3 linked regions of the Homo sapiens genome follow. The protein of the gene in region 1 binds, or shares a complex with, the protein of each later gene. Each region holds a gene or a part of one and is shown in the gene's direction. Other genes may lie near its edges.

The links.
Region 2: ANKS4B (region 1) and USH1C share a complex: the UniProt entries of both Homo sapiens proteins name them as parts of the IMAC/intermicrovillar adhesion complex.
Region 3: ANKS4B (region 1) and CDHR2 share a complex: the UniProt entries of both Homo sapiens proteins name them as parts of the IMAC/intermicrovillar adhesion complex.

What each region holds. Positions count from the first base shown.
Region 1 is NC_000016.10:21,228,799-21,237,085, forward strand, and holds the start of ANKS4B (ankyrin repeat and SAM domain-containing protein 4B), read left to right. Parts: upstream 1-4,900; 5' UTR 4,901-4,939; coding exon 4,940-5,103; intron 5,104-8,287. UniProt on the Homo sapiens protein: As part of the intermicrovillar adhesion complex/IMAC plays a role in epithelial brush border differentiation, controlling microvilli organization and length. Plays a role in assembly of the complex.
Region 2 is NC_000011.10:17,520,397-17,527,830, reverse strand, and holds part of USH1C (harmonin), read left to right. Parts: intron 1-499; coding exon 500-608; intron 609-790; coding exon 791-815; intron 816-1,020; coding exon 1,021-1,078; intron 1,079-1,389; coding exon 1,390-1,484; intron 1,485-3,295; coding exon 3,296-3,380; intron 3,381-4,352; coding exon 4,353-4,412; intron 4,413-4,563; coding exon 4,564-4,620; intron 4,621-4,904; coding exon 4,905-5,047; intron 5,048-6,419; coding exon 6,420-6,485; intron 6,486-6,836; coding exon 6,837-6,961; intron 6,962-7,434. UniProt on the Homo sapiens protein: Anchoring/scaffolding protein that is a part of the functional network formed by USH1C, USH1G, CDH23 and MYO7A that mediates mechanotransduction in cochlear hair cells. Required for normal development and maintenance of cochlear hair cell bundles.
Region 3 is NC_000005.10:176,572,959-176,580,392, forward strand, and holds part of CDHR2 (cadherin-related family member 2 precursor), read left to right. Parts: intron 1-1,124; coding exon 1,125-1,214; intron 1,215-2,125; coding exon 2,126-2,251; intron 2,252-2,321; coding exon 2,322-2,468; intron 2,469-2,547; coding exon 2,548-2,623; intron 2,624-2,765; coding exon 2,766-2,881; intron 2,882-2,993; coding exon 2,994-3,227; intron 3,228-4,440; coding exon 4,441-4,596; intron 4,597-4,678; coding exon 4,679-4,840; intron 4,841-5,075; coding exon 5,076-5,137; intron 5,138-5,406; coding exon 5,407-5,650; intron 5,651-7,434. UniProt on the Homo sapiens protein: Intermicrovillar adhesion molecule that forms, via its extracellular domain, calcium-dependent heterophilic complexes with CDHR5 on adjacent microvilli. Thereby, controls the packing of microvilli at the apical membrane of epithelial cells.

The sequences.
Region 1 (8,287 bases):
CCACTCAGGTCCGAGCCTCAAAGTCTCTCCAGTGTGTGTCTGGCAAATATTCTTCTCTGGCCTTCCAAGAGTCCAGCTGTATGCTGATGGAACACGCTCAAATACTAATTTCCACAAGATCAGTACAGTCAAGAAAATCCACAACTGCCCCCACAATTACCATGACTCCTCACAAGGAATTAATGTCTACATTATATGCAAATTCGTGTTAGCTCTTTTTATTAATTTCTGCCCTTACCATCTCCCACCAATTTTGTTTCCTTTGGGCTTTGAGGAATTCAAAAATGATTACTGGGCTAAAACTTCCTCTGTCTGTTCCCTAAGCCACAATCACACTACTTCTAGTTTGTAAAAACATGCTTTATGGGTTGCAAGAAATTTTATTTCTTCATCTTTACTAAAGTTAGTTGATGCTGATGATAATGATGATATGATCACTAGCAACATCCCCCAGTTTTATCCACAAGGATATGGAGACTCAAATAGATGGAGTAACTTTTCCTGGATTATATGAACGCTAGGTCTTCAACCCTCCTTCCCAACCTCACCTTGAAGGGATAGGATAAGGAGGATCTTCAAGTTCAGAAAAATGTTTTAAATCCTTATCTCTGCCCCCACTTCCCCACCCCCCGCTGCCCCTGCCACCCCATTCTTCTCCCAAGGAGGAAATTTTCCCAAGGGCGTGCCAGAGGATGCCAGGATATTTACCATTTAAGAAAGTTTGGTTATTTCGCCATTTCACAGGAGACTTTAAGTTCTAGTCCTAAGGACTGCTGGAACTGAGAAATTCTTTCTCTTTCTTGTCTTCTATCTCCAATCCTTCTTCCCCATCTCTATAATTATTCTGTCCTCTTTACCCTTTGCCTCCATCCTGTGAAACTTAATCACGCAAATTGCATCATTCTTGTTATACCCAACTAAATCAGGGTTGAGAGGCTGGGTGGTGGAGTTGGGGGAGAAAGCACTCCGAGTACAAAAAATAAATAAATAAATAAAAATTGCTCCAAGAACGTAATTCTCAGCAAGACTGACTGCTGGAACTGCCTGCTGTAACCCGGGAGCAGTTTTATTTACAGCTGCTGAGATAACTTGCTGCAACTCTAGGACAAATTTTGCCCACTAATCAGAGCTTGCCAGCTCCCCAAACCCTTACTAGTGCCAATGAACTTTCTTGAAGAGCAATATGTAACATTTCTCTTGTTAATAAAACCTCTAAACTTCTCTTTTCTTCTTCAGACATACTGAAGACCACCTGGTCTATGTGTGTATCCCAAATTGCAAGTCTTTTTCCAAATAAAACATTAAATTTAGAGATTCAGCTCTAAATTTTTATTTTGACTTTGACAATCCTCATCCTAATTTGGCTTATGACCATCCTAGTGGCCACTATTCTTCTCTTTCTCTTCCTCTTCCTCATCCTTATCTTCTGAAAGCAGACCCTTTGGCTGGAGTCTTAGGATTCTACTACAAATAATACATCTTTGAGAAGTTCTCTATCGGTTATATGTATTTTTATTTTTTATTTTTTTTGCACTCTGTCACCCAGGCTGGAGTGCAGTGGTGTGATCTTGGCTCACTGCAACCTCAGCCTCCCAGGCTCAATCAATTCTCCTGCCTCAGCCTCATGAGTAGCTGGGCTTACAGGTGTGCACCACCATGCCCAGATAATTTTTGTATTTTAGTAGAGATGGGGTTTTGCCATGTTGGCCAAGTGGGTCTTCAACTCCCGACCTCAAGTGATTCACCCACCTTTGCCTCCCAAAGTGCTAGGATTATAGGCGTGAGCCACCTCGCCTGACCTGTTTTTAAATTTCAAAGTGCATTAATGAATGCAGTTGTATCTAAATTAAAGTGGCTCATGCAAAACTTGATGAAGAACCTTACCATTTTCTCACAGTATTCATAATCATGTTTGGATATGTCACTCTCTCTGGGCTAAAAACAATGTTTAAAAAAAGCTAAATAATGCTGCCCTCCAGGCTGCTTCTACTGCTCTTCACCTAGAAGCCAGAAAAAGGAACAAACAGTGACCTTTGGAGCTCATTATTATTGTGAAGAAACTGTAGATGAAAGCTTTGTACTTTTTCTGAGTGGGTAAATAATTTATCTTGGAATAAAAACTTAGACAAAAAGAGATAAGAGGAATATACAGTTACAGGCTTCAAAAATAGATATTTCTCACATCAGTTTAGTGGACAATTATCTAAATATATTAAAGATTGTGTAACAATATGGGGATATATTTATGATGGATTAAGGAGTGGAAAAGATGTAATGTAAAATTATATGTATTTGATGAAAACAATGTAAAAAATACACCACAGGAGAACATATGCATAGTTGATGAGTTATGTAAGGATGGCGGTTTCTAATTTAGTTGCAGTGTCTTCAGAGAACACGGTTTGCATGAACCCTGTTATTTGTTATTTGTCGAGAACTGCACTGCTTCTATTCAGTGGTCAGGTTTTATAAATATTCTGTGTGCTTAGAAAAAACATGCATTTACTATTGGGCACAGGGTCCTTTCTCCATGTGACTGTTAGATCAAGCTTGTTAATTGTGTTCAAATCTGTTTTTCTTCTTTTTTTTTTTTTTTGAGATGGAGTCTCACTCTGTCACCAGGCTGGAGTGCAATGGTGCGATCTCAGCTCACTGCAACCTCCGCCTCCCGGGTTTAGGCGACTCTCCTGCCTCAGCCTCCCGAGTAGCTGGGACTACAGGCACATGCCACCATGCCCAGCTAATTTTTGTATTTTTAGTAGAGACGTGGTTTCACCATATTGGCCAGGATGGTCTCAATCTCTTGACCTCGTGATCTGCACCCCCTCAGCCTCTCAAAGTGCTAGGATTACAGGTGTGAGCCACTGTGCCCGGCCCAAATATTTTATAGCTATACCAATCTTTAGTCTGATATAGAACATTATGATGATGTCTGAAATCTTCCCTTATGATTGTGGTTTTGTTTTTTTTTTTCTGTTTAATTTTTGCTTTCCCTTTTTTGCAGCTGTGTTATTTAATTTATACAAGTTTAAAACGATCATAGTTTCTTGATTAATTGTTCCTTTCATTATCATGTATTATCTCTCTTTATGCCTAGTAAATTTTTTTGGCTTAAGCTATATTTTTCCTTGCTACCAATACGGGTGCTCTTCAACTTACAATGCAAAACCACCATAAGTTGATATAATAACTCAGTTGTGAGCTGAGAAGCATACTAAATACCTGTCATTTTTGTGCCATCATAAAGTTGAAAAATTAGGTCAAACTCTCATAAGTTGCAGACCATCTATGTGGGTACACCAATGTTTTGTTAGTATTTGCTTGCTATAACTTTTCCATTTTTTGCTTTCAATCTTTCTGCAATTTTATATTTTAGATATGTCTATTATAAACAAGACATGGCTGAGTCTTCCACATCATAAATTTAGTCCATTTTCTTTTGTTTTTATTACAGATCTGGAAATTTTTTGGTCTTATATTGTACTCCTTATAGTCATTTTTCTATACTTTTTCTCCTTCCCTTGAGTTATTGATAATATGTTTAAGTTATTGATTTGAGATCTTTTTTCTTTCTCATATATGCATAAAAAACTACAAATTTTGCCCTAAGCTTTTCTTTAACTGCATCCTATAAATCTTGATATGTGGTATTTTCATTTTCATTCTGTTCCAAATATGTCTGATATAGGACTTGTATCCAGAGTATATAAATAATTCTTATAATTTATTAATAAGACAACCACTTAAAAATTGGGCAAAAAGATTTGAATAGAAGATGTAAGAATGGCTAATGGGCACATGAAAAGATGCTCAATATCTTAGTCATTAGGAAATTGAAAATTAAAGCCATAATAAGACCACTTCATATCCACTAGGATGACCATAAACAAAAAGATAGGCAATAATAAGGCTGGCAAGGTTGTGGAGAAATTGAAACCCTCATACGTTATTGGTGGAAATGTGAAGTAGTACAGCCACTTTGGAAAACAGTCTGGCAACTTCTGAAATTTAAATGTAAATTGCCATGCAACCCAGCAGTTTCACTCCTTGATATATACGCAAGACACATGAAAATATGTGTCCACACAGAGACTTGTACATCAGTGCTCATAGCAGCATTATTCATCATTACTGAAAAATGGAAACAACCCAAATATTCATCATATTCATGAAACATTGAATGGATGAAGAACATGTGGTATGTTAGCACAGTGGAATATTATTCAGCAGTGAAAAGAAAGAAACCATTACATGCTACACATGACAAACCTCAAAAAAGTATGTGAATTGAAACAAGCTATACACTAAAGACTATATATTGTAGGATTCCATTTGTCTGAAATGCCCGTAAAAAACAAATCTATAGAGACAGAAAGCAGACTGTGGTTTCCTGAGGTTGGGAGTGGAAATGGGATTGACAGCAAATGGCATGAGGGATCTTTAAGGGCTGATGGAAACTGGATTATGATAATGGGCATGCAACTCTATAAATGTCCTAAAAATCATTGAATTGTATGCATGAAATGGGTAAATTTAATGATGTTATACCTCAATAAAGCTGTTCTTTTTGGAAAAAACAGCTAGTGAACTAGAGTAGCTCTGCATTTTATTAAGAAATTATTTCTTACATCCTGTGCCTAGATGGCCAATATTACACTCAAGAAACTAATGGACATAGAAAAATTGAATGTACCTCCAAACACTCAAGATGAATACAGCAGTCTTCAATAGTCAACGTCATGGCCATTCCAGAGAGAAAAGGTCCAAGTTCAGTGCCTCGAACCTTGTTGCCTTCCGTGAAAGGAAGCAGTTGAAATGAGCTTTGCCCCTGGTGACACTCTTCCTTGTCACTAATTAACCAGCTCTATAGGAAGGTTGCTCCGCCAACACCTTGCTCTGCCTGGAGAGACATCTGGCCAAGTTCTGGTGAGCAGGAAAAATGTCTACTCGTTACCACCAAGCTGCTAGTGATAGTTACCTGGAACTTCTAAAAGAGGCTACCAAGCGAGATCTAAATCTTTCGGATGAAGACGGCATGACTCCTACTCTCTTGGCAGCCTACCATGGGAACTTGGAAGCCCTAGAGATAATCTGCAGTAGAGGGTAAGTTCAACCCGATGGTTTCTGTTGGAAACAGTGTTCATGGTAGGTTTTTGCAGACAGCAGCAAGAGGCAGGGACGTCAATACAAATACTTTATCCTCTTTCTAGATTGTCTAAATGATTGGATTTTTAGAGAAAGAGAGAAAACTATGCCTAGAGATGCTCTCTTTTCTCACTGAGGACTGGCACTATAGGAGTGGCTCATCCCTTAGCCACAATCAGAGGAGAGACCCTGAACTACGGCATTATCTGCATGGGGAAGAGGGAAGATATTTTAATTCTATGCCTTTAAAAATGCTTTTCATGAAATTTAAATAGTTTTCTCTTTTCAAAGAGGCCATTGTTTTACTTGGTTTTAAGTTGCCAACCTTGGTTGGAACAAATGACATGGTTTTAGTTTTTTTTTTATCTATGCCATCAAAATCTCACAGTCTTTTATTAACTTTCAATCCCAGTGCAAGCTCATGATTTTTTTATTTTTTATTTTTGACACAGGGTCTTGCTCTTTTGAATGGAGTTGCTGGCTCTACAAGGACTCTTTAGCCTATCTTAACTCTATCACTTCTTTGGCTAGTGGATAGATACACACACACACACACACACACACACACACACACACACCCCATCTCTTTGCCCAGATTTTAATGGAGGAGTAAGCTAGTTCCTCTGCTTGTTCTGCCTGTTATCAGAGGGCTAGGTTGTGTTGGCAACCGTAACCCAAGAGGGGTAAAGAAAGAGAAAAGGACAAGGTAAATAAAGGAGCCAAGTGAATCCAATTGAATACCCATTTATTCAGTATTTGTTATGTGCCAGCCACTTATCTCTTAAGATAAGAGATATTTTGCTAGCCACTGGGCACACTGTGATCAACAAGACAGCCACAGTCCCTGTCATAGTGAGCAGATTTGAGAGGGGAAGACAAGACATCTATGATATTTGTGTGTGTGTGTGTGTGCATGTTTGCTCTGAGACAGGGTCTCACTCTGTCACTCAGGCTGGAGTGCAGTGTCAAGATCATAGCTGACTGCAGCCTTGAGCCCCAGGCTCAAGTGGTCCTCCCATCTGAGCCTCCCGAGTAGCTGGGACAAGAGGTGTGCACCACCATGCCCAGCAATTTTTGTACTTTTTGTAGTGATGGGGTTTTGCCATGTTGCCCAGGATGGTCTTCAACTTATGAGCTCAAGCGATCTGACAGCCTCGGTCTCCCAAAGTGCTGGGATTACAGCTGTGAGCCACTGTGCCTGGCTCATCTATGATATTTGTTACAAAAAGGGAAATAGAGGGCACTAAATAGGCATCTACCTCAATCTCAGGGGTGAGGGAAGGCTTCCCTAAGGGGAAAGCATTTAAGCTGGGATTAGGAAAATGAGAACAAGTTGGCTAGACGAAAGAGTGTTTTCCCTAAGATGGAAAACTGCTCTAGTTCTGAGAACTAGAGAAGCTGAGTATGGCTGGATGTGGTTCAAGTAGGAGTGGGGTCAGGACAAGTATAAGAGATAAGACCAGATCACAAAGAGCCTTGTCAACTCTGGTAAGGACTTTATCCTAAGGGCCCAGGAAGCCATGTCTTGGGTAGGGAAGCTGCCAGAGTAGATTTATGTTTACAAAACTCACTCAGGTAGATGGATAACAGTCGGAGAGAATGTTTGGGGACTGTTTTAGTGGTCGAGATGAGTTGGACTAGGGTAGTGACATTGGGAATGGGAAGATATGGTTGGATTTGAGTGGCAGTTTGGATGTAGAATCAATAATGATTGACTGGATGTGGGCAGATAAAGGAAAAGGAGGGTTAAGGTCCCAGGTTTTGGATGTTGACACCCTTTATTAAAATAGGGGACATTTAGGAAGTGTCAGAAGAACCCAGGATTGGGAGAGTTCCTGAGTTGAAGATTGAATGAGAAAGTGAGTGAAGCAGATCTTCCCCATCTCTCTTGTCTGAATAAGACTTTCTTTTCTCAGACACATCGATCCCCATCAGCCAGCCTTCTCCAGTCATCTCATCTCTTCTCCTACTCAGCCTAGGGTTCCCCAGCTTTCTCCATCTACTGAAAGTCTACCTCATTCCACAAACTGCAAGATGTCAGTTACTTTAAAATCAAAGTATTAGCCTATTCTTGCATTGCTATAAGGAAATGCCTGGGCCTAGGTAATTTATAAAGAAAAGAGGTTTCACTGGCTCATAGTTCTACGGGCTGTACAGGAAGTATAGTAGCTTCTGCTTTTGGGGAGCCTTCAGGAAGCTTCCAATCATGGCAGAAGGAAAAGGCATCTCACATGGCAGAAGCAAGAGCAAGAGAGCAAGGGGGGAGGTGCTAGAAACCAGATCTAATGAGAGCTCACTATCATGAGGACAGTACCAAGGGGAATGGTGCTAAACCATTCATGAGAAATTCGCCCCCACGATCCAGTCACCTCCCACCAGTCCCTACCTCCAACATTGCGGATTACAATTTGATTTGAGGTTTGTTCCCCACCAAATCTCACAGATCCAAACTGTATCAACCAGTGAGTTTGTCCTCCTAGAAGAGGGTTTGGGGGTTCTGGGGTTCTTCTCAGCAGAGAGCTCTTGTTCCATTTGAGGACATTTTGAATAGTAATGCTTAGGTGTTCTCTCTCTTTCTCTCCTTTGAAAGCCTGAAATATTCTCTTACAATAACTCTTCTGCTGGTCTTTATTTATTTTTTATTTTTACTAGAGACAGGGCCTCGCTTTGTTGCCCAGGCTGGTCTCGAACTCCTGAGCTCAAATAATCCTCCTGCCTCAGCCTCCCAAAGTGTTGAGATTACAGGTGTGAGCCACAGCACTCAGCCTGGTTCTGCTAGTCTTTAATTACAAAAGTAACATGAGCTGAACCCAGAAAATTAAACCATACAGACGCACACAAAACATGAAGAAAAAATGTCCTATAATGCCATGCTACTAAGATGTATATAGTTCTCTCTATATATACTATAGTGCATACAAATACATTTTAATATTCTTCTATAAATTTCAGGGACTTTGTAGGACTCTAGTCAACAAATACATTTCTTAGCCAACCCCTCTTTTGGACACATAGTTTGTTTTCCCTAGTTTGAATAGGGCTATGATGACTATCCTTGTACATAAATCTTTGCTGACATTGTCTTTTGTGTTTTTTTGAGATGGAGTCTCTCTGTCACTCAGGCTGGAGTGCAGTAGCGTGA
Region 2 (7,434 bases), on another chromosome or scaffold:
GGTCAGGAGTCACAGAAGGTCCCCACCCCGACTCAGTTACAGTGTTGTAGCAATTAACAGAGATAGGGAGCCAACTTCCTAGGGGTGGGTTGGGACAAAGTCCCGGTAAGAATAGCTTAAAGCTGAGTGAAATGTCACCCTTTGCATAGAATCCAGAATCTGATGGTGCCCCAGTGGAGTGAAAGGGGCACTAGAGTGAGGGTGCAGAGAGTTCTGAGATCTTCTCCCAGCTCTGCTGCACACCCGCTGTGCCCCTCACCCCTGTCTTGGTTTCTCCATCTGTAAAATGGGGCGACAAGACTGCTTGGACATGCCACCTGAACCTGGGATCCCCCGGGCTGATGGAGGGTGGGTTGGTTGAGATCAAGGCTTATTCCAGGGGGTGGCACAGCCACCCTTCCCTTTTCCGGAGAGCAGTCCGGGAGCATCTGGTGGTGAGTCTGCCCCACTGCCTGATGCTCCCTCCACCTGGTGCTCCCTGCCTCTCTCTGTGGTCAAGGTAGGGGACGAGATCGTCCGGATCAATGGATATTCCATCTCCTCCTGTACCCATGAGGAGGTCATCAACCTCATTCGAACCAAGAAAACTGTGTCCATCAAAGTGAGACGTGAGTGAGGCCAGAGCAGGGCAGTACTCCATGACGGTGGGAGGGAGGGAGGGCGGGGGAGCAGGGCAGTACTCCATGACGGTGGGAGGGAGGGAGGGCGGGGGAGCAGGTCAGTACTCCATGACGGTGGGAGGGAGGGAGGGCGGGGGAGCTGTCCTAACCCCTGTGCCTTTCTCCCGCAGACATCGGCCTGATCCCCGTGAAAAGGTGAGAGGCCCCTCCTCTGCAGGCCAACTCTTCCCTGTGGGCCCAGGATCCTGGTACAGCCCTGGGGTCCGGCTCCCACCATGCCAGCCCTGCTTCTGGGCCAGTGGAGGCTGGAGGCTCTAGACATGGTGGATCTGGATGTGGGGCCTGGTTCCTCAAACGTCTCTCGCTAACCACCCTCCCATCTATTTTCCCTTCCCATCAGCTCTCCTGATGAGCCCCTCACTTGGCAGTATGTGGATCAGTTTGTGTCGGAATCTGGGGTAAGGGCCAGACCTCCTGTGATGGGGTTTGGGTGGGGTCATCTTCAAGGAGGGGTGGCCGGTCCTGAAGGGAGGGCTTGCTCTAGAGATGCACCCTCAGGGGCTTCACACAGGCTCCCAGGGCAGCCAGCACACCGCTGTGGGGCAGCAGCCCTCGGCCAGGCCCAGCTGGTGCAGACACATCCCCAGGGACGGAATGATGATCTGGCTGGCGTGAGTTCAGCAGTGCTCGCCCTGCAGATCCCACAAGCTCAAGAGGCCGCTTGCACGCATGTGGACACTCCGTGATTCTGCTTCTATCTCTCTTTCAGGGCGTGCGAGGCAGCCTGGGCTCCCCTGGAAATCGGGAAAACAAGGAGAAGAAGGTCTTCATCAGCCTGGTAGGCTCCCGAGGCCTTGGCTGCAGGTGGGTGGCAGGCATGCCCTGGGGTCATTCGTGGCCAGTGCACCCCAGCAGGCCCCTATTGCCCTCCCCTTCCTCACTGCCACTTCCGAGGAAACCTTGCCCACCAGGGGTGTGACTGTCCATGGGTGATGATACTTTTTTTGTTAGATACAGGGTCTGACTCTGTTGCCCAGGCTGGAGTGCAGTGGCATGATCATAGCTCACTGTAGCCTCAACCTCCCCAGCTCAAGCAATCCTCCCACCTCAGCCTCCTGAGTAGCTGGATCTACAGGAACACACTGCCATACCCAGCTAACTTTTAATTTTTTTGTAGAGATGGAGTTTTGTTATGTTGCCCAGGCTGGTCTCAAACTCCTGGGCTCAAGTGATCCTCCCACCTCAGCCTCCCAAAGCCCTGGGATTAGAGGCATGAAGCACCGCACCCAGCCTTGGTGTTGACACTTCTTGGTGCCTGATTTCCCCTCTGAACTTCATGACAGGCCTTTAGGGCCAGAGGGTCATCTCTAACAGAGCCCAATTTACAGATGAGGAAATTGAGGCCCAGAGGCAGAACAGTGTTACCTTGTGGGCCCTTGAGTCACTGCAAAAGGAGCCTGTTTGGCTGGTCATCTCTGTCACAGCTCTCTTGTCACTTATTAACTTGTTGGCTTCCTTAAGAGGCAGACAGGGAATTCCGAACAGACACTGGGCCACACGGGGCTTAAGCATGCAGGTGCCACCGTTACTCAGATCCCAGTTCCAGCCCTGCTTTCCCACTTAAGAGCTCTGGAACCTTGGGCCAGTTACTTAACCACTTTGAGCCTCAGTTTCTCCCTCTATAAATGGGCGATAATAATTCCCACATCACAGGGTGGTTGTGGAGAAAGTAAAGTGCCAAACTTAGTACCTGCTAAATAGTAAGCAGTTGGTAAATATTAGCTATTATTATTTAAGTTATCCCTGTTCTTTCCTTTCATTCACATTTATTCAATGTTTTGTGCCAAGCACAAGTGATAAAAAGTCCCACCTTTCTGGGAGACAACAGCCTAATCTAGAAGCCAACCAAGTAAATAGTTATAATATAGGGTGATAGGGACTCGAACGGGACTACATTCTGCGTCCAGGATGGCAAATAGGTGCCATCTCTAGTCAATGAGTAGCAGCTCCCTGGAGTGCTGCTTTGAAAAGCATTCTAAAGCTGTATCCAGGATTGTGGGAAAGAGTGCTGTGATCAATGAGTGACTTCTGCCACCAATCTAGGAAGGAATACTAACAGTACATGTACCATCCTTGCCGTAAATGTCATAGGAGCACTGAGAACAGAGCGGCTAGTTTAGTCTTGGGATAGAATAAGGGATCTGAGCCAGGCATGGTGGTGCACACCTGTAGTCGCAGCTAGGCTGAGGTGGGAAGATTGCTTGATCCCAGGAGTTGGAGGTTGCAGAGAGCTATGATCACACCACTGCACTCCAACCTGGGTGACAGAGCAAGACCCTGTCTCTAAAAAATAAATTTAAAAAAATAAGAGGATCTGGTAAAAACCTTATAGAAGGGATAGCATTTGAGTCTTAATGGATGGACAGGAAAGTGCTAGAAAGAAAGAAGAAACAGCATATGAGGTATATTAGGTGAGAGGTTGGGTAGGAAGAATTACAAGGATTTTTCTGTGGCTGTTGCCCAGGGTAGCAGTAGAAATCAGGCTGGAGAGGGACACAGAGGCTGAAGAGGTAGGCAGTCAAGGGCCTTCAGTCCTCAGCTCATGAGTGACCTGTATCCTGAGCACTGGACATGGGTTACCTGAATCCCGAGCACACATTTCCCACCTCCCGCAGCATTTCCAGCGGCCCCATCCAGAAGCCTGGCATCTTTATCAGCCATGTGAAACCTGGCTCCCTGTCTGCTGAGGTGGGATTGGAGGTGAGTGACGCTGGGCCGGCCCCAGTGGGGGCCCACTGGAAATTGGGTCAGACTGTGATCCCGCGGTGACAGGGGCAGGTGCCTTTCCACATGGCCCTCTTTCAGTGGACACTGAGGGAGTAGGAGCCCTACCCACCCTGCAGAGAAGGCTTCACAGACTGGGGATGTTTGACCCTTCTGCAGCCTTCCCCAGCTCTGATAGTTGTTGGTCACGAGCTTGGGAATGTCGTAATGGTAATCAAAGAGCGGACCTTCAGTGTCCACTTGCATCAGACATTGTTCCATGCCCTTTACACTTCACAAGAATGCTGAGGGTTAAGTACCACCATTATCCCCACTTTACATATGAGGAAACTGAGACCCAGAGAAAGTATATGATTTTTCCAAAATCGTGTACCTCATATGGTAGGGCTGGGATTCAAACCTAGGTGGTCCAATCCCAAAGCAGGAACCCTTAACCTCTTCTTTGGACAAGTTACTTCATGTCTGTTTGCTTACCTGTAAGATGGGGATAATACAGGCTTTCTTCCAAGGTTGTTGTGTGGGTTAAAGTAATTAATATGTATACTAGAGCTGTGCCAAGCACATTGTAAGTGATCAGTGAATGTTAGCTATTCTGTTATGACGATTCAACACAGCCTGTGCTAAATGAGAAGCTCAAAGGTTCCCGCATCTGCAAACTGTGATTTTTAAAGCAAATGTCATCAAATTTAGCCAAAGAAATGAACATGTAATGGTATAATATTTGATAGTTGATAAGATAGTTATGAAGTAGGGGAGTGCCAGGGTCAGCTTTAAGCCCTCCCAGAGCTCCACCAGAGCTTTCCAACTGCTCCATTCATCAGGAGGAGCTGAGGTACTGCCACTTGAAGATCCAGCATCTGACCCAGAGCCCCTGGGGGAGCCTGTCCTGCAGATGAGCGAGTGTACAGATAGCGCAAACACACTAATCTTTCTCCATTTCCCCACCAGATAGGGGACCAGATTGTCGAAGTCAATGGCGTCGACTTCTCTAACCTGGATCACAAGGAGGTGAGATGTGGGGGTCTTCACCTGTTGGCCCTTGTCATCTCCACACCCCACTTCTCATCCCCACCACCCTGGAGCCTGGGGCCTTCTGTGCTCTCTGCCTGGACTGCTGTGGTCTGTCAGGCCTCGGCCCACTGTCCTTCTGTCCCCACAGGCTGTAAATGTGCTGAAGAGTAGCCGCAGCCTGACCATCTCCATTGTAGCTGCAGCTGTAAGTCCAGAATGAGCTGGTGGGAGCCCCTTGACCTTCATCCCCAGCCCCTCTGACCTTTGATCTCTGCCACACACTCCCAGGGTGGCTGGTCTCCTTCCCTGAAGCTCTGACAGAGCAGAGCGAGAGGACTTCTGCCCAGCAAGAAGTTTGGGTCAGGGATTGCGGGAGCCGCAGTGCCTGATGGTGCTGAGAAGACCACCTGCATCTCGGCCCCCAGGGGTGTGTCAGGGGATCCCCAGGTTCCCCGGGGGCTGAGCAAGGGGCCTCTTTTCTCCCATGAGGGCCGGGAGCTGTTCATGACAGACCGGGAGCGGCTGGCAGAGGCGCGGCAGCGTGAGCTGCAGCGGCAGGAGCTTCTCATGCAGAAGCGGCTGGCGATGGAGTCCAACAAGATCCTCCAGGAGCAGCAGGAGATGGAGCGGCAGTGAGTGCAGCCAGCCCTGGATGCCCTGTCCCGCCTCCCACCCCACCACACGACCCCACCTAGCTTGCTTCCTGCCCGCTGTGTCCCCAGCCAACTTCCTCCTCCTCCCTGGAGGCCAGTCCTCAGACCAGATGAGTTTGGTGGTAGGTCAGCGTATCCATCCTTGGCCTCAGACCACCTGGCTCCTTCCTCCTTGCTGAGCAGAGCCCCCTGTCTTCCAACATTCCAAGAATATGGAAAATAAGCATCCTACTAGCAGTAGGCTCTAGCTAGCTAGGATTAGCTACCAGCTAACATTTGTCAAGTACCTCCATAAGGCTGGTGTTGTATTAGGGCCTTGTTTATGTTTCTTAATTCCCACAATAGCCCTGGGAGGTAGAGAGTATTAACCCCATTTTAGAGGTGTGGAGACTGACACTCAGAGAGGTGAAGCCACTTGTGTCTAACGTCACACGTGGCCAAGCTGGGATCACCCCCAGGCAATCTGGCAAGTCCCCACAGGGCTGCCCTGCCTATAGTGATGAAGCTCACCCTTGTCCAGGAGGATTGAAATGATGGCCTAAGAGAATAAATGGGGTGAGCAATTCATAAATCAAAAACTACTGTCAAGATCCAAATCCAAATACCTTTTAGGCATTTAAAAGTATTTCATGGCTGGACGCAGTGACTCACGCCTGTTATCCCAGCACTTTGGAGGTCGAGGCCGGCAGATCATCTGAGGTCAGGAGTTCGAGACCAGCCTGGCCAGCATGGTGAAACTGTGTCTCTACTAAAAATACAAAAAAAAATTAGCTGGGCATAGTGGCATGCGACTGTAATCCCAGCTTCTCGGGAGGCTGAGACATGAGAATCACTTGAACCTGGGAGGCAGAGGTTGCAGTGAGCTGATATCGCACCACTGAACTCCTGGGTGCAAAGTGAGACTTTGTCTCAATCAATCAATCAATTAATGTATTTTGAAAAGGAAAGAGGAAAGGCTGTCCCCATCTCCCCCAACACAGAGTTAGCTGGGAGTATTCCACCTGGCTAGGAGCCCCTGCTTTGCTCCTGGGGTCAGTCCAGGCCCCGCCTGTCATCAGTCACCTTACCTAAGTGTTTGGAGGAGGGTGCATGGAGTGTGGCCTTCACATGGATCTGCTTCCCTCCTCCCACAGCCCAGCATCTCTGCTCAGCCATGCCAGACAAAACCACGCAAGAGCACAGCGTCCAGACTTTGTTAGATAACGTCCCCCAAAACCAAAGCTGGTCCAGGCCTCCTAGGAAGGGAGCCTGGAGAAAAATCCAACTTTTCTCCAAATCAAGAATTCACAGTAAGGAAGAGTTCATTTCTCTTGCATAGGGCCAAACATGCCAATCTGCATTTGTGTTTCAGAAGGAGAAAAGAAATTGCCCAGAAGGCAGCAGAGGAAAATGAGAGATACCGGAAGGAGATGGAACAGTGAGTACCTCGGCTCCACGCGTGTCTGTGCATGAACATCAGTGTGCTCAGGGGAGTGTGGCCAACCAGAGGCTGCCTCCAGAACCAGTTTACCTGGTTCTCTCATCCCCTGGTGGGTCCTCCTTTATTTGTAGTAAAGCCTGTCATATTATAGTAACTGAAACATAGTCTCGTATAATTGCCAAGGTGGGGTTCACACTCAATTTAGAATACAAGCTCGGGGACTTTGCTTGATTCATCATGACTAGAACCATGAGGCTTCTCCCCAGGCTGGCTGGGGCTCTCCGATATGCAGGAGATGGGCCTATGGGGGTTCTGACTCCAGTAACAGGCATGGGGGTCTCATTTTAGGATTGTAGAGGAGGAAGAGAAGTTTAAGAAGCAATGGGAAGAAGACTGGGGCTCAAAGGAACAGCTACTCTTGCCTAAAACCATCACTGCTGAGGTACACCCAGTACCCCTTCGCAAGCCAAAGTGTAAGTTTCATGAGCCGAGGGGAGAGGCTAAGGGAACTAGTCAGAAATGCTGGCCCTCCCTCCCCTCACCACCACCTCCTAGATGGATAGCCCTTGGTGCTCTGGGCTGTGGTTCCTTCATGGAGGGGCAGCTGTGGGTCAGAGACCATCTGCCCCAGCATCGAGGTAGGAGGGATCTGTCTGCTCCCCTTGTTCACGGGCCAGCTCCACATACCCAGCTCCCAGGTCCCCCACAACACTGACATGGGCAGGCTGTCAGGCTGCTGAAGAGGGAATAAGGGCCATAGTGAAAGTGGATTAGCTCATGGGATTACCGTCCTAATGTTTTGGGTACCATGTCCTCCTCCTACTTGGTTCTGAACAGGGGCTGGGGTGAAGCCAGCAGCAGAAAAGAGGGGAAGGACCTCACATCAGAGAAGGGCTCTGGTGGTCCAAGGTTGATTCATAACTGTGGGAGGAGCTTACTAAGTGTC
Region 3 (7,434 bases), on another chromosome or scaffold:
GAGCACGAGACAAGGCAAAGTCAAGGAAGTGACTGCAGCGGGCACTGCTTTAGGTTGAAGGGTCAGGAAAGGCCTCTCTGAGTTGAGGGCATCTGAACAGAGAGACCTGAATGGCAAGAAGGAGCTGGCAGGGGATGCTCCAGGAAGGGGTGCTCCAGGCAGGGGGAACAACAGGTGCAAAGCCCTGAGGCAGGAACAAGCTCAGCCAGTGTGGCTGGAGGGGGAGGGTGAGGAGGAGGTCAGGTCAGAGAGGCGAGTGGCAGCCCAGGCTCGAAGGAGTCTGGACTGTGATCTGGGCAGAATGGGGGGACTCTTGGGGGATTTGAAGGAGAAGAGTTATGTGGTCTGATTCATGATTTTCAAAGATCTCTGTGGCCACCATTAGGAAGTATAGGTCGTGGCTGGGCACGGTGGCTCACACCTATAATCCTAGCACTTTGGGAGGCTGAGGCGGGTGGATCACCTGAGGTCAGGAGTTCGACACCAGCCTGGCCAACACGGTGAAACCCTGTCTCTATTAAAAATATATATAAAAAAAATTAGCTAGGCATGGTGGTGGGCGCCTATAATCCCACCTACTGGGGAGGCTGAGGCAGGAGAATCGCTTAAACCCAGGGGGCAGAGGTTACAGTGAGCCGAGATCGTGCCCCTTCACTCCAGCCTGGGCGAAAGAGTGAAACTCCATCTCAGGAAAAAAAAAAGGAGGTAGAGTTGGTGTGTACAGGGGCCCAGGAGCAGAGTACTCCCCAAAGAAGCCTCCAGCTCTGTAGGGCGCTGTTTGAAACCCATGGCTATAGGCTGTAGAGAGCACATGGGATGTCTGAGTGCGCAGTGGCACAGTGAGGCTGGGCTCTAGAATGATCCCTCATCCTGGTTCTGAGGGGCTCCGACAATCAGAAGCCAGCTTAGGTGGTGGAGAGGCTGTGTGGGGAGGGGAGGAGGGAGATCCTCTCTGCCGCCCCGCACCCCCAGGTGCCTTCCACCCGCAGCCCTGGTGGGAAGGACAGGGGAACCCTGTCCCCATGAGTGCACAGCTGAGGACACTGAAGCTCAGGGGGGCAGTGACGGACAAGGGAGAGGAGGAGCTGGATTTGAGCTCATAGGTGACGAGTCCCTCCCTGCAGACCCTGCCCGTGGGCAGTGTGGTGTTCTCCGTGCTGGCCGTGGATAAAGACATGGGGTCTGCAGGCATGGTCGTGTACTCCATAGAGAAGGTGAGTGTGAAGGGGGCCCTGACCGCCTTTGTGACCGCCAGGGGGCAGCATCTCCACAGACAACCCACAGGGCCTGAACGTTGGGGTGGGGACATTGGTCCTGCCTTGGCCCAGCCCTGGTCCCCAAACCGTCCTCTGGCCACCAGCCCCCCTCCCCGGAAACCTCGCCTTGCCCGCTTACCTAAAGAGGGTGCCTGCTGCAGACCAGACCCTTCTTCCTGCCCGCCTGCTCCCAGGTCTTGTCCAAATTCCACAGACAATAAGGGGTGTGTAAACCCATTTCTCATGGAAACAGACTTGCTGTTGATAGCGCCATTTACCGAGCACCAACCACGTGCCTGGCACATACTGTATAGTCGCCCCTTGGTATCCGTGGGGACTTGGCTCCAGGATCCCTGAGGACACCAAAATCCATGGCTGCTCAAGTCCCTGACATGCAACGGGGTAGTATTTGCATGTAACCTAGACACATCCTCCTGTGTGCTTTAAATCACCTCTAGGTTACCTCCAATACCAATGCAATGCAAATACTATGTAACTATAGCATGTTATGCTATATTGTTTAGGGAATCATGGCAAGGGAAAAAGTTTGTACACCTTCAGTACAGACGCAACCATTGTGAGTGAGCCTAGCTACAGTTTTGATCTGTGCTGGTCAAATCTGTGGATGTGGAAGCCACAGAGATGGAGGGCCGACTGCATCTTATTGGATCCTCCTTTCAACCCACTGAGGGTTGTCACCAGCCCCATTTCCTGGAGCTGGAAACTGAGGCTCAGAGAGGTCATATGACCTGGTGCCAGTGGCGTGACTGGTCAGTGGCAGAGCTGGGACCTTCCCTGCGTTGCTCAGAGTGGGGTCCTCGGTGCAGGGCTGTCCCTAGGGAGCCTGACCCAAGTCTGCTCTGCCCCAGGTCATCCCTAGCACTGGGGACAGCGAGCATCTCTTCCGGATCCTGGCCAATGGCTCCATAGTCCTCAATGGCAGCCTCAGCTACAACAACAAGAGCGCTTTCTACCAGCTGGAGCTGAAGGCCTGTGTGAGTGGGGGTGCCGGCAGGCGGGCCTAGGACCCACGGCGCTGGCTCACGGGTGGCCATCTCCCCGCAGGACTTGGGCGGCATGTACCACAACACCTTCACCATCCAGTGCTCCCTGCCTGTCTTCCTGTCCATCTCCGTGGTGGACCAGCCTGACCTTGACCCCCAGTTTGTCAGGGAGTTTTACTCGGCCTCTGTGGCTGAGGATGCAGCCAAGGTGCACGGGGGACCTGTGGGGTGTGGGTGGAGGCGGGAGGCGGGGAAGTTTGAGGAGCACTGACCAGGCCCCATTCCAGGGAACCTCGGTGCTGACGGTGGAGGCTGTGGATGGCGACAAAGGCATCAATGACCCTGTGATCTACAGCATCTCCTGTGAGAACGGGGTGTCCCCAGGCCAGGGCTGGGCCGGGGCCAGGGTGGGGTCTCCGTCAGAGTCCCTGGAGGCAATGGGCCTGGGGCTCCGTCAGAGCCACTGGAGCAGCTGTTCCAGCTGTTCCGCCTTTCTCCTTGCCAGACTCCACGCGGCCCGGCTGGTTTGACATCGGGGCAGATGGGGTGATCAGGGTCAACGGCTCCCTGGACCGTGAGCAGCTGCTGGAGGCGGATGAGGAGGTGCAGCTGCAGGTCACGGTGAGCAAAGGCCCCACCACCCCTGTCAGAACCCTGCTCTCTAACCTCTGGCCTTTGATCTCTCTCTCTGAGCACTGGCTCTCTGCCCTCTGCCCTCTGCTCTGTGCCTCAGGCCACCGAGACACACCTCAACATCTACGGGCAGGAGGCCAAGGTGAGCATCTGGGTGACAGTGAGAGTGATGGACGTCAATGACCACAAACCTGAGTTTTACAACTGCAGCCTCCCAGCCTGCACCTTCACCCCCGAAGAGGCCCAAGTGAACTTCACTGGCTACGTGGACGAGCATGCCTCCCCCCGCATCCCCATCGATGACCTCACCATGGTGGTCTACGACCCGGACAAGGCAGGCGTGGTGGCGTGGGTGTGGGCGGGGGTGGCTGGGGGAGGCCAGTGGGAGCCTGGATCGAGTGACGGTGTCATGTGGTGCTGGGTGGCGGTGCTGGTGGTGCAGGGTGTGATGGCGGAGAATGGGGGTGCTGGGTGCTCTCTGGAAGCCTGTGTTGGTAAGCAGTATCATCCTCTGGGCGATCCGTGTGGGGCTGAATAGAAGGCCATGCTGAGTGGAGGCTGACGTAGAACGTCAGATGATGCTGAGTAGAACATCATTGTCCGTGGTGATGGGTGGCTGGCGAGGTCTCCTGGCATTGGGCGGCCATGATTTGGGTAGTCCTGGGAACTGGGGGAGGCTGAGCAGTGTTGGGACAAGTGGTCTGAGGGTGTGAGGTGGGAGGGTGCTCTTTTTTTTTTTTTTTGAGATGGAATTTCGCTCTGTCACCCAGGCTGGAGTGCAATGGCCCAATCTTGGCCCACTGCAACCTCTGCCTCCCAGGTGGAAGGGATTCTCCTGCCTCAGCCTCCCAAGTAGCTGTGATTACAGGTGTGCACCACCTCGCCCAGCTAATTTTTGTGTTTTTAGTAGAGATGGAGTTTCACCATGTTGGCCAGGTTGGTCTTGAACTCCTGACCTCAAGTGATCCACCTACCTTGGCCTCCCAAAGTGCTGGGATTGCAGGCGTGAGCCACCGCGCCCAGCCATGGGAGGCACTCTTAAGTGGAGGCTGCAGTGAGAGGTGGGTAACACGGTGGCGCTGGAGGATGAGTAACTCTGGAGGGTGTATGGTGTTAGGTGATACTGAGGGGTTGGAAATGTTGCGTGGAGGACAGTGTCGGGTGGGGTTAGGTTGGCCAGAAGGGTGGCACTGGCCAGTGGGGTGACGTAGGGTGTGAGTGGTGTTTGGTGTTGCTGTGGGGGCTGGGGGTGGGGGATGTGAAGGGTGGGTGGGAGGGACAGCTGACAGGAGTGAGGGGTGTGTGTCCAGGCTCCAGCCCAGGTCTGGGACCCACAGTGCCTAGGGAGCTGTCTTCTACAGAGCCTGCATTTGCAGGGACTGGTGACCAGCCCAGCCTCCTGCACCCTCTCTCGCAGTCTTTTGAGAGCCCCCTTCCATGGGACCTCATCGGGCGGGGCATCCAGAGATAGAAGCCTGGGGACTGGGGGAAGATGCAGGTGGGCAGAGCAGGGGGACAGGTCCCTGCTAGACAGCCCACCTTTACAGGGCAGCAATGGCACCTTCCTGTTGTCGCTGGGGGGCCCCGATGCAGAAGCCTTCAGCGTCTCCCCGGAGCGGGCAGTGGGCTCAGCCTCCGTTCAGGTGCTGGTGAGAGTATCCGCGCTGGTGGACTACGAGAGGCAGACGGCGATGGCGGTGCAGGTGAGGGCTGCTCCGGGGTGCCAGGGGCAGAAGCCGAGGGGCACTTGGGCCCCACAGCTGCTGCCTCCTCCCCTGCCCCCAGGTTGTGGCCACAGACTCCGTCAGCCAGAACTTCTCCGTCGCCATGGTGACCATCCACCTTAGAGACATTAATGACCACAGGCCCACGTTTCCCCAGAGCTTGTACGTCCTCACGGTGCCAGAGCACAGCGCCACCGGCTCTGTGGTCACCGACAGCATCCACGTGAGTGATGTGGACACAGTGGGGCTGTGGGGTCCCAGCAAGCGGGCGTGCATGTGTGAGTGTGAGAGTGTGTGTGTGTGTATGTGTGAGATGGGGGTGGCCATGAGTGAATCTGAGTGTGCTGGGGATTCTCCCTTTGTGTGAGGAAGCACGACAGCTCTGTCCCCACGAGCTGCATGGGTGGCGGTGCGTGCATCGCCTCCACACAGCACCCTGCCATGTCTCTGCCTCACAGGCCACGGACCCAGACACGGGCGCGTGGGGCCAAATTACCTACAGCCTGCTCCCAGGAAATGGGTAAGGGCTCAGGGTGGGCCGTAGGCAGGTGGGTGAGCAGGGCCCAGGCCCACCTCTCTGCCTCTCTGCAGAGATAGAATAGCTGGGGAAGACCGAAGGCACTCAGTTACATTTCAATTTCAGATAAACAAGGAATGACTTTTTGAAATAATGAATATGTTGCATATACTGCATGGGATATGCTGAAATATTTGTTGTTGTATATCTGAAATTCACACTGAAATGGGCATCCTGTGTCTCTATTTGCTGAACCTGGCCCCTCTGAGCAGGGCAGACCTCTTCCAAGTGGATCCCGTCTCAGGGACGGTGACGGTGAGGAACGGTGAGCTGCTGGACCGGGAGAGCCAGGCCGTGTACTACCTGACGCTGCAGGCCACAGACGGCGGGAACCTGTCCTCCTCCACCACACTGCAGATCCACCTGCTGGACATCAACGACAATGCACCCGTGGTTAGCGGCTCCTACAACATCTTCGTCCAGGAGGAGGAGGGCAATGTCTCCGTGACCATCCAGGTGTGAGCCTGCCTGGACCTGGTGGGTAAGGCTGGGGGAGGGGACCAAGCCTGCTCTGTGGGCATGCTGGCCCTGGGTAAAGTCGGGGCTCCGCTGTGTGGCTCTGAGACAGTCACTCAGAGTCTCTGTTTCCTCCCAGGAAATGAAGAAAATTATAGCCTTACTCTCAGGGTCATTGGGGAATAATTTAATGACTTGTGTGAGGAGCTCAGCACTGGGCCTGCCAGAGAAATCCCTCAAAAACATACACTTCTTTTTTATTTACCCACCTGCCCCACTCCAAAAAGGACTTGAGGTGGCTTAGATAAATAGTAAGATAAAAATATGAAAGAAATAAGAAAAAAGAGAAAATAAAGGTGGCATTTGTTAAAGGGCACAAGGTAAAATTAGAACCCAGTGCTACAGAATTGCTTGGAGTGAGCTGCAAATTCTGATCTGAGCTTCATGGTGGCCAAAGCAAAAAAGGAAATGAGATCAGTGGCCAGGTTCACAGAGTTCATGAGATAAAAACCCACTAGTGACTCCAGAGAAACACCGGGGAGTAGCTTCCTCCCTCGTCCTGAGGAGTTCGGAAGCTTCGCCCCTGAGGCATCTTGTGAGAAGTGAGAAACCAGGTCCTCAGAGTGACAATCTGGTGGCCACAGAGCCCTCCCGTCTTTCCAGGACTGTGTAGTTTCCAGAGCATGTTCCTATCCCTGATCTCTTGACCAGCTTTGGAAGCAGGCGGTCTAATAGTTCCCATTTCTCAGGAGACAACAGGCTCAGAAAGGTTAAGTGATTTTCTGTGGTTACACAGCCAGTAAATGATGGCGCTGGGGCTGCAGCCCAGACCTCTCTGGCCCTGAAGCCTTGGCCTTTCCTCCTTCCTGCTTGGCACTTCTCCCCTGGTCTGTGAGCTCCTTGGGGCAGGAGCATTTCTGGTCGGCTGCTGTAACCGTGGTGCCCAGCATGAGCCCCAGGGAGCACTTGATGAATTAACTGGCCTGAGTTCAGGGCACCAAAGGATGAGCAGACAGGATGAGGCTTTTGGAAAAAATAAACATCTCCAGCTGCTTTCAAAGGATGCATGTAATAAACAAGGTCCCAGCAGAATGAAATGGAGGAGCTGAAGGTGGAGACTGGCTGGGAGGAAGGAAAGAATTGGTTGAGTCGGAGTGGTCCCACTCTGGATTCAAGGCCACGTTTGCTGAGCACTTACCCAGTCTTTGGCTGGGCCCTGAGTCCTCAGAGATGAGTCCACCACCATTCCTGCCCCCCAGGCGGCTCCCAGTTAGGAAGAGGGCGTCAGACAGTCACCCAGCGGTGTCACCTGTGCTATGTTGAGGCCCAGAGGAAGCGCCAACCTGGCCTGGAGTCAGGCAGGGAAGGTGTGGGAGGCATCGGGGTGAGGGAACGGAACCTGCAAAGGCCTGGCGGCACAGAGGAACCCGCTGTGTTATCCACACTGGTTCACCCCAAAGACAAACCAAGCATGCCTTCAGGGCCCTGGCAGGACAGGAACACACACACACACTCACGCACGCACTCACACACGCACTCACACACACACTCACACACGCACTCACACACACTCACACACGCACTCACAGACATACAAAGTGAGTGAAGAATCAGCTATTTAAAACATATAGCGCTGACGGCCGGGCATGGTGGCTCCTGCCTGTAATCTCAGCACTTTGGGAGGCCGAGGTGGGTGGATCACTTGAGATCAGGAGTTCGAAACCAGCCTGGCCAACATAGTGAAACCCCATCTCTACTAAAATTACAAAAATTAGCTGGGTGTG